Linked DNA regions of Homo sapiens: region 1 is linked to region 2. Evidence: fine-mapped expression QTL. Tissue or cell type: whole blood. Region 2 holds a variant in brackets; the other region holds the start of a gene. All regions are shown on one strand. Distances are from middle to middle. Region 1 holds the start of NABP1 (nucleic acid binding protein 1). Region 2 has its middle 96 kb from the start of NABP1.

Evidence for each region.
Region 1: NABP1 starts here. The variant in region 2 is fine-mapped to the expression of NABP1 in whole blood (INTERVAL, PIP 0.91).

What each region holds. Positions count from the first base shown.
Region 1 is chr2:191,675,854-191,681,211 of GRCh38, forward strand. It overlaps NABP1 (nucleic acid binding protein 1), which reads left to right and starts at 2,283. Exons shown (of 6, transcript NM_001031716.5): 1 at 2,283-2,852; 2 at 3,137-3,275. The coding sequence starts at 2,762. RefSeq lists silencers at 1-184, 1,975-2,324, 2,925-2,984 and enhancers at 132-241, 1,835-1,914, 2,124-2,626, 3,454-4,653.
Region 2 is chr2:191,579,035-191,584,423 of GRCh38, forward strand. No RefSeq gene overlaps it. Among named protein-coding and RNA genes, the nearest start is that of NABP1, 96 kb to the right of the region's middle. The variant C/T (reference allele first, on the strand shown) is at 3,007.

The sequences.
Region 1 (5,358 bases), 97 kb after region 2:
GATTTAGAGGTAGCTGAAACCAACTAGCCTGGGCTGAACAGTTTCTGTATTGCCCAGACCATCTTGTTTCTCAAGGCTGCCTTTCGTTTTGGTTAATGAGAAAGCATATGGTTGCCATTTCCTTTCTGAGAACTGCTGAGTTAGTAGGGAAGGAAGTAGATGTTCAGCTGAGTTCTGTCCTGTGGGGGAAGGGAAGGGCTGAGCCACAGCTTGGAGTACCAGCTTCTGCTTTTGTGGGGCTTGATTTTCTGTGTCTGATTTCTTTTTATAAAATGTTCATATAATTAGCCTGAACAGCCCAACCTAATCCCTTTTCTGGGGGCAAATGATTGAGAGTTGAGTGGCAAACTTTCTTTGCCCAAACTCTTGGCCGTAACTCTTAACATTCTTAATTGGTTTCCTGTCTATTCTTAATCTTTTGAAGATCTTGTCAAACCTTAAAAAAAAAAAAAAAGAGCTCTGCCTTAAATATTGCTTCTGTGAGAATATTTTGCCTGTTTAAGAAAATACAGCTTTGAGTACAATCCAATTGAAGTGTCAAGTCCTGCCAGATAACCATGGTAGAATTAGAGCTTCTGAGCTGGATTGGGATTGAGGTTGGACGCTGGCTCTGCCATTAACTGGCATGTTTCATCATTTGTTTTATTTGATGTTGAAATTATGCTTATAATTTTATTTTACACCACTTTCCAGTATGACATCAGTGTCTTTGGCACCTTGGGCTTTATTAGTTCATGAAATGGAAGCTTCTGTTTCCTTAAAAATGCCTTGACTCTCTTGCTAATGTTGTGATAATGTTTCCAACTCTTTCTAGGGCTATAATATCTATGCTGCTTGTTTGCAAATACTTGGGAAGTGGTGGTTGATCTAAAGATACTCAGAAAGAATGGGGAGAAAATTAAGGCTTCTGACACTTTTCCCAACATTTCTGTTATCATCACCAAGAATTAACTAGATGATTCTTTAATGCCCCACTACTTTATTCTGCTATTTTATTTCTTCAGTCTGTTTTTGACTCTTATAATGACACCACTGGAAGTTAAGTCTAAACATTACCTTTAGGCTGGAGAGCTCTGGGGTCAAGATTGACTAGATTTAAAACCCAGCTCAGCCATTCTCTAGCTATCTGGTCTCTGGTGAGTTCCATCGCCTGTAAAACGGGGATTAAAAAGGGGAAAATACTGAGTATGTACTATTTGCTAGGCACTAGTTGGACAATTTATGATCCATTTAATCAATCTTCTGCTAGGCAGGGATCCCCATTTTATTATGGTTAAAAAGCTGTAATAAAAGCCAATTGACCTAAAGCTCTCACAAGTAAATAGCTGGAGCCCAGGTTTGTCTCTAAAGCACATGCTCTTTTCACTACGCGACATAAAAAAAACTTTATTAATCTTTTTTTCCAGATTATGTTTCAAGGGTTCCCACTGCTGTTGAATAATTAATTCCTTTTAGATGTACAAAAGCAAGTGCAAAGTAAAAGAAGAAAAGCTAAATGGGGAAGGTGTGTAATATGAGAGGCAGGGGGTAAGGAAAAATGAGAAGTCTGCAAAGGAATTTACGTCCTATCTGCTTAGCATTACACAGTGGAAGCCCACGTCAGACATTTGTGTTGCAGTCCTGCCTGCTCAGGGGTTGCTGGGTGACCTTCTGCAAATTACCTCATCTTTCTGGGTTTCAATTTAAGTATGCCTGAAATGAGGCGGTTGAATTGATCTCCAAATTCCCTTCTGGTGCTAAACTTCCAGCCTTGTAGCCACTGACGCCTTCACCATCCCAGCCTGTTTTCCCTTGGTACCGGACCAGCTGCCCTTGCCCGAACCCTGTTCTTCCTCGACTGCGAACTTTCTAACGTACTCACAGGTTCTAAACTCTACCGTTCCTCGTGACCGAGGGACTAAAGGGCCCGGGCAGGGGCTCAACTCTGAGAGAAAAAAAGGCAAGAAAACTCCAAAGTTGGACAGCAAGCGTCAAAAGACTGCACAGCAGGAAGGCGAAACCGAACAGAACTGCTGCTGCGCGGCGACAGCTGAAGTGGGTGGAGAACGGGAGGGCGGGGGAGGCGGGGCCGAGAGCGATTGGAAGGACGAGGGGGCGGAGCCCGCGCTGACAGCCCCCGGGGAGGAGCGAGGGAAGCTCTGCGGGCTGCGGCGGCCGGGTCCCGCCCCTTTGCTTCCCCTCCCCAGCACCAGGCGGGCGTGGCAGCAGGCGTGCCGACGCAGCGTGACTTCACAAGGGGAGGGGCGGGCCGAGGGTCCTGCCGGCGCGCGGGCGTGTTCATCAGTCGCTGTTTGGGACGCTGGGTGTGCGGTGTTCTGTCTCCGCTCCCGTTTCGCTGTCACAGCCCGTTCCTTCCCGGAGCCCGGGACAGGCTGGGCGCGCGCCCGTGTGAGTGAGCGGGACTCAGGGCAGAAGTGTCCCCTCACTGCGTTTTTTTTTCCTTTTATCCAAAGAACGGGGCAGTTAGTACGCTTGCCTTCCTGTCGCCCGGTTGGGAGCGGGGTTGGTGTGCGGAGTGGTTCGCCTTTTTTTCTTTAGAACTTGTGAGCCTTTTTTTTTTTTTTTTTTTTTTTTCTTTTTTTAGGCTCAGTGCTGTCCGGGCTGGTTTGCCCGGTCCCTGACTAACGGCTTTCTGCCCCTTCTCTCGCCACCCCTGCCCAAGGTCGCCCCTCTGCCTTCGCCCCTGTCCCGGGAGGGTGGGAAGCTTTGACCCCGCCCTGCCCACTCGCGTCTCCGCAGCCGTAGCCGCGCCTGTCCCAATATGAATAGGGTCAACGACCCACTTATTTTTATAAGAGATATTAAGCCCGGACTGAAAAACTTAAATGTCGTCTTTATTGTCCTGGAGATAGGTAAGTGGGGTTTGCAGCCTACTCCACCGCCCGCTGTGCCTCCCGGGGCGGGAGACAGGGGCGCCGGCCGCTGCGCGCCCGGGGCTCCCCTCCTCCTCCCTCCCCTCCCCCACCCACGTGGCTCTAGTGGCCTCCGCCCGAGATCGGATCCTACCTGAGGCGGGAGCCCTGGGCTTGGTCACTTCCCACCTTCCAGATGTATTAAAATACCGGAGGAGGAGTTAGCCTTTCTGGATGTCCTCATTATCTAACAACCCCTCCCTTTGATTTTTAAATCCTCACAGGACGCGTGACCAAAACCAAAGACGGCCATGAAGTGAGATCGTGCAAAGTAGCAGATAAAACGGGCAGCATCACTATTTCCGTGTGGGATGAGATCGGAGGTCTTATACAGCCAGGGGATATTATTCGGTTGACCAGAGGGTAGGTGTGCAAAAAAGTCGGGGGACCTAACAGTCTGCAGAATCGGGATTGGCCGGCTCCTGGGATCTTGGCAAGCCCTGAAGTCCCCCGCCTTTTCTGTGGGCCACTCTTGAGGAGTTTTGAACTCCTTTGGTGTTAACTTTGGGTGGTGGGCAGCGCTGGGATGTAACAGACCTTTGCAGTGAAAGGCAGTCGGTTTCAGCTGGGAAATCCGCGCCTCTACCCCGGTTTACAGGTTAAGTAGATTTTTAATTATTATTATTTTTTGGGACCGAGTCTCGCTCTGTCGCCAAGCTGGAGTGCAGTGGCGTGATCTCTCCTCACTGCAGCCTCCGCCTCGCGGGTTCAAGAGATTCTCGTGCCTCAGCCTCCCAAGTAGCTGGGACTACAGGCGTGTGCCACCACGCCCAGCTAAGTTTTGTATTTTTAGCAGAGACGGGGTTTCAGAGTGTTGCCCAGGCTGGTCTCCAACTCCTGACCTCAAGTGATCCGCGCGCCCCAACCTCCCAAAGTGCTGGGATTACAGGCGTGAGCCACCACGCCCGGCATAGATTTTTAGTTCTATTCTGAGTCAGTGAGTCTTTTTAGGAGACTGGTATAGTCCATATTTTTTCTTTTTTATAAGTTGTTTTCTCTAGTGTAGTTGCCACTCAGTTGTTTCCCACCCCTTCTCCATTTTTAATGACTTGAAATCCTGGCCAGTATTTTACATATGTTATTTAGAAATGTGGACATAAATGAAAATTATAGGTAAAGGATTTAGCATATTCTGTGATATGTCAAATTTGTACTTGGAAAAAGAGGGAAACTTTACAGTATCTGGAAGGCTCATTCTCCAAAATGATTTCTTGTGTCTTCTGCTGTAAGGTGGATGTTGCGCAAAAACCAAAGGGATACACAGAAAATGTTTGGCAGAAAGGCATCTACAATACCTTCATCCAAAAGAGTCAGTTGGCGGATAGGTGGCTTTAAAAAATACTAGAACTTTTTTTTTAAAAAATAGATTGCTTTTAGAAATTTACCAAATTTTTATCTTAGGAAGATAAAAGGGCAGAAAAGGATCTTAAAAACAGAATTTGGAAGCTTTTGAGATCAATAAAATTGTAATAATTTATCATTAACTGCAGGGAAAGTGGTGGAGATTGATGTTGGCCTAATAAGTAGAATCTTAGAAGTATTGGAAAGCACTGAGAGTAGGAGCTTAGAGCTCCTTGGTGTTACCTTGCAGGCTTACAACATCTTCAGGAAGTGAGGTAAAGTGTCATCAAAGCAGGAAGTGAGAGTCAGGACTTAGACATTTTCTTCTCATACACTGACTCATGACAGTAATTTAAACTTCCACATCTTTAAAAAACAAAAGAGAATTCCTTCTTAGGGAAGTATGGTGAGGATTGATTAGTATAATTGGAGTTTTTGGCTCCCCAAATATTTTTCACCCAATGATTGAAAGTATTTTTTACGCTAAAAACGGCATCTTATTTCAAGTATTTCATGTTCTGTAGTGACAGTCATAGGTGTTTCCATCAAAAAAATTATTGGAAAATTAAACTTATTAGTTAGGTACTATAGAATTTTAAGGGGAACAATTACCTGGGAGTACAATTTAAACGAAAATTAAAAACTATAGAAACTCTATTTACTACTTCAGTATGACCTTGAGAAGTTACTACACCTCATACTTCAGCTTCCTCTTCTGTGAAATGGGAATAATTATACCTTATTTACCAAAACAACACACTCAGCTTGGAGTCTGGCTCATTCTAAGGCCCTTAAATTCTGGTTGAATCTAAGAAAAGTAGCTTTTGAAGAAAAACATACCTAACATCTAAATAATGGTTCAAATATCAACATGTTTATCAGAATACCCTGAAAACTTACCTCAGTGTTCTCATTTCTTAAAGTGAATGTTAAATATTTTAATTGTAACCAAATTTTTTCTCAAAATATGGGTTAATTTTTATTTTAGTAAGGTGAAATGTTAATGCACTGTATCCTAAGCCACTCTTTGTATAACTTAAGAGTGGTGAATGGTGTCTTTAATAAATAACCCTTTAATTAAAGTAAAGAGAACTGTATAGTAAGT
Region 2 (5,389 bases):
ACAATTTTCAAATAATGCTTCATTTAATTCTCACAACAAATCTGGGAGGTAGACATTATTTTTTCTATTGTATGGATAAAGCAATCAAGGCTAAGAGAGATAAAAACAAGTTGGACCAAATCACACCACTAGGAGAAATAGAAGGAGAATTAGCTCTAATCAGATTGTAGAGTTACATCCTCTTCCATTGTACTGCATTGCTCACTCATACTGATTTGCTTAGATTGAATTGAACTTTTTAGATAAAGATGTATCCATGCATGCAGCAACAGAGACAACAACTGAACACATAATCCGATGAGGGTCATTCATGTGCACGCTTACTCAGCCAACTCACCTTTAATGAGCACCTACTATGTGCCAGTGCATTGTAGTATGTCCTAGGGATTTAATGATTAAGTATGATAGACATTGTCCCTGTCCTCACAGGGCATCTAATCTTATTATGGATGTGTTTAATATATACATGCTTTAAATTTTGTTTGTGATGTCAGAATTTGGCCTAATTTTACACTGTGTATATAAACAACAGCCCCAGACAAAGGAAACTCTGTTCCTGATGGAGTGACTTTTCAGGTGGTAACTACTATTTGGAATGCAATAACAACTATGCTCAGAAATGCATTCAACTACTAAATGCATCTGAGGGTTGTTCTTCCACACAATGTTCCAGTATATTACAGGTCAGAGAGTTGGAGAATAAGAAAATTACTCCTACTGTTCTGGGGGCGGGGGTGGAATAAAAGCAATAGGATATTATAATTCTTATTAATAAACATTATTAAACTCAGACAATTTCTGAAGTTTAGAATAAAAATAATTAATCTACTGAAAGAATGGTAAACTAGAAAAGATTAAAAATTATAATTAAAGAATGAAAATGACATTTGGTATCAGAGTCATCTCAGCAGACTATCTGAACAGTGCACTAAACAAAGTGAATTATTTCTACCATAATAATGGTATTTACTGTAATACAATGGCATACTAGAAATCTAATTGCAACCTGTCAAGGATTAAAAAAACCACAGTTATAATTGGAAAATACAGGAAGAATAGATATGATCTGTATTTTTAAAGGAATATGGCAATGCTACTATATGGTTCAATTTTCAGATATCAGGATTTAATATAATAAGAAAATACAGAGAAAATGAAAATTGGGGAAACTTTTGAATAGGTGCTTTAAGAAGGGGATTTGCAACCGATTGGAAACAGGCTGATTTTGATTACATTTTAATGTGAGATAAAGTAAAGATGGGGTAAATCCAAAGTAAAACATAATTATAAGTTTCTACATAATCCCTGGCAAAATATTAAAGATTAGATTTCAGAATTGTGTTAGTAGTTCCATACAACTTTTACTATTCATAGTTACCCATTGTACATTAAGCATTGTCAGAAACAAAAAATATATTCATAAATGGAAATAGTAAAAAAGATATTTAATAAGATATCTGGATTTTAAAGTTTTTCCTTTTCTGAAATAAAAGAAAAAATAAATAAAACACAATAGAAAACAATCTAAATACTAGAATATGAGTGAGGCAACAGAATGATATGAATTCATTTTTAAATAGAAAAAAATTAAGTGCAAAGTACTTTATTTAAAAAGCATGAACACACCATTTTATATACTATCCCCTGATTTATTTTCACAATGTCTTATGTGTATATATGTATATTACACATGCACACACACTTACACACACACAAGTCCCATGGGAGCACATTTGAATGGGTATGCATAATGAGTCATGGAGGTTAATTGGCCAAAAATTTGGGTAAGTAGTCCTATTTCCACAACGGCCGAAAAAGATGAGCATCACTCATTCTAACATACACGGAACCCTCAAATGTGATCAGAAAAATCAACAGCTCTTAACTTAAATACTGATAATCGATAGATTCACAGTACTGATACATAGGTGAGAATAATAGCTTCATTTCAGGTAAGTATAAGGGATTTGGGAATATCTGGTTATGAAGAGTCTAAGATTGAAAATAAGTGCTGATAGAAACTGTTCATGAAATGTGGCCACCATCCATTCTATATTCTGAGAAACAATGTGGTAATAATCTGGTGATTTTGGTCTTTTTTGTCTGTTTGTCCCAAGTACAGAAGTTGATGGACATACACAAAATAAACTTCTGCTAAAAACCTTGATGAGTGATAAAGGCCATCTGCCAGCAGCTGGAGAAGTGTACTTTGACAGGCTGTATATTGCAGAGAGAGAGGGAGAGAGAGAGACTATTAGAAGATATTTTCAGAAATAGTTGTGGATTTTTTGTAAATGAAATTAAAACATAAAACACAGAAGGCATATAGTAGGGAAATAAAAGTCAAAATTGCATTCCTAAAGTACTGTCATCTCTGAGGAAATTGTATTAGCTTTATCCATCTCAAAGTATTTTTCTGAAGCATGTGATTAAATAACAATAATATTGACTTCTATTTAAAGATATGTTACTTTATTATTATGTTACTTTGCTGAATTCGTTATTAAAGATATTGACATTTGAGATGGTTAGAGTACTAGAAGGCATAGATCTGGCTATAAATTTATTATGTTTTAGAATAATATTTATTTTCTCTCTGATTATAATGGCACTACATTGTAAGGAATTTGGATCATAAGAATCACACACAAAAAACAGACAAATCTGTACTCCTACCATACATTATAGGTGAGATTATAGGTGATTATAGGTGTCATCATTCTGGCATATTTCCTTCCAATAATTTTACTGCTCTATTTAAAAATATATACATATTATATGTATAAATTTGTTTCCGGCGTTTTTCTTAATGTTACATCAGCAACATTTTCCTATGTGATTAAAATTTTTAATAAACGTAATTTTTTTTTGAGCAGAGTCTCGCTCTGTCACCCAGGCTGGAGTGAAGAGTGCAGTGGCATGATCTTGGCTCACTGCAACCTCTGCCTCCCGGGTTCAAGCGATTCTCACGCCTCAGCCTCCCAAGTAGCTGGGACTATAGGCACA[C/T]GCCATCACACCCTGCTAATTTTTGTATTTGTTTAGTAGAGATGGGGTTTCACCATGTTGGCCAGGCTGGTCTCGAACTCCTGACCTCAGGTGATCTGTCTGCCTTGGCCTCCCAAAGTGCTGGGATTACAGGTGTGAGCCACCATACCTGGTGAGAAACATAAATTTTAATTGCTGTGTAATATTCCATTACATAAATGAACTCTATATTTAGTGTTCTATTTATTTATATATTTATTTTTGTGACTTTACATGACCTAAGAATTAACATGTTTGTATTTCAGAATATTTTTTAGCAAAGATCTTTAGAATTGGAATTATTGAGTCAAAGGCTAAATGTTTAACATGAAGCTATGGTAAATACTGGCTAGCTGTTTGCCAAACTTGCTTGATTTTCCTTCTGAGTACAGAGATAGGCTACATTTCTCAGCCTCCCTGGCAGTGAGGTAAGGACATGAGAATGAATTCTTCCCAAAGGAATGTGGCAGAAGTGATACAATCATGCACAATGCTTCCAGGTCTGGCCCAAAATGACCTCTTACACAATTCTCAAGGCTCTCTCTTTCCTTATTTGCTGATGGTGTGTCAGTGCAGGGTGAGCTTGAGGCATTTGAGAAAGACAGCAGAGCATTTGTCAGGCTGTTTCTGAAGAAATGTGGGGCAGAATACCCTTCATTCCCACTGGCTTGAATTGATATCAGATTGAGAAATAAAATTCCAATAAAATGTTAAGATATTGAGATTTGGGGGTTTAGACATTTTAGTGCTAGCATAATCTTAACTAATAGAGATATTACCATTGAAACTTAGGTACTACTCTGTAATAAAAACCTAAAATATGTGGAATCAGCATTGGGTAGTGAGGACATTAATATCAGAGGATAGGAAGATGGAGACTCATGTAATACAGTGGTAAAATATGTGTTAACAATTCGTGATAGCAAAGACATAGAGTCAACCTAAATGCCCATCAATGACAGATTGGTTAAAGAAAATGTGGTACATACACACCATGGAATACCATGCAGCCATAGAAAAGTACGAGCTCATAGTCTTTTGTGGGAACATGAATGGAGCTAAACAGAAAACCAAATACCACATGTTCTCACTTACAAGTGGGAGCTAAAGGATAAGAACTCATGGACACAACGAAGGAAGCAACAGACACCAGGGTCTACTTGAGGGTGGAGAGTGGGAAGAGGGAGAGGAGCAGAAAAGATAACTATTGGGTACTGGGCTTAATACCTGGGTGATGAATTAATCTGTACAGCAAATCCCGTGACATGGGTTTACCTATATAACGAACTTGCACATGTACCCCCAAACCTAAAATAAAAGTTAAAAAAGAAGTACATAAAATAAAATGTGTGTTAAAACTGTCACCAGAAATAGCATAAATGCAGCCGGGTACTCATTGAGCCTGTAGCTCTAGGGAAAGAGACTGGAAAACAGAATTTTGTGATATGTGTTGGTGGTTACTGGCTTCCATTAGGAAGGTATTAGAAGAAAAAAAAAAATGAATCAGTAAATAGCTTGACAGGTTCCAAGCAGAAATGAAAATAAATACAGAGAGAGAAGAAATCTGGGGCATCAAAGAGATTGAAACACCAACGTTTCTAGATTCCAAACAATAGGAAATACAATTAAAGGTGTAGCTTTTTCTCCCAAACCATATGACTTCAGGGATGCTGGCATCAAATTGGGTGCATGTGAGAGAGGCATGAAGCTGAGGAAGCAAGGAAAGAAATAACGGATAATAGTTACGTTTGTGAAAGAACTTTGGGTAGGGTTCCACATAAGCCTGGACTTAAAAAGCCACTGACAGCCTGAGCCTTAAAATCATCCTTGAGCCCCCAAACAGACAGAGAAGTTTCTTATCAAAAGTAGAATCAGAGTCAAGGAAAAGCACTGTTTCACTCTCAAGTAGGGCCTTCGGGATTCACACATGATTCCATTTACATGAGCTATTCAAAAAAGGTACATCTATGGAAGCAGGAAGTAGATTAGTAGTTCCTCGGCATTAGGGTGGGAGTTACAAATGGGCATGGGAGGCCTTTGCAGGGTGCTGGAAATATCCTAAAGCTGGATGGTGGTGAGAGCTGCACAACTGTGTGAATTTACTAAAAATCATTGAATTGTATAGTTCAAATAAGTAAATTTTATGATATGTTAATTACATCTCAAAACAAACTTTTAAGATAAAAACCTGTGCTGGGATGGATCCAGAAGCCAGCCCAAGCTGCCACCTACTTCTCTTGGACTGGGAGCTGACTCTGGTACTCTCTCTACTGGCAGGGTGCTGCCGACCCAATGTGCATGGATTTAATTGCAATGCAGAAATAGTCATGGGGAGATGTCCCTTAACTGTAGCCCTATCACAGGG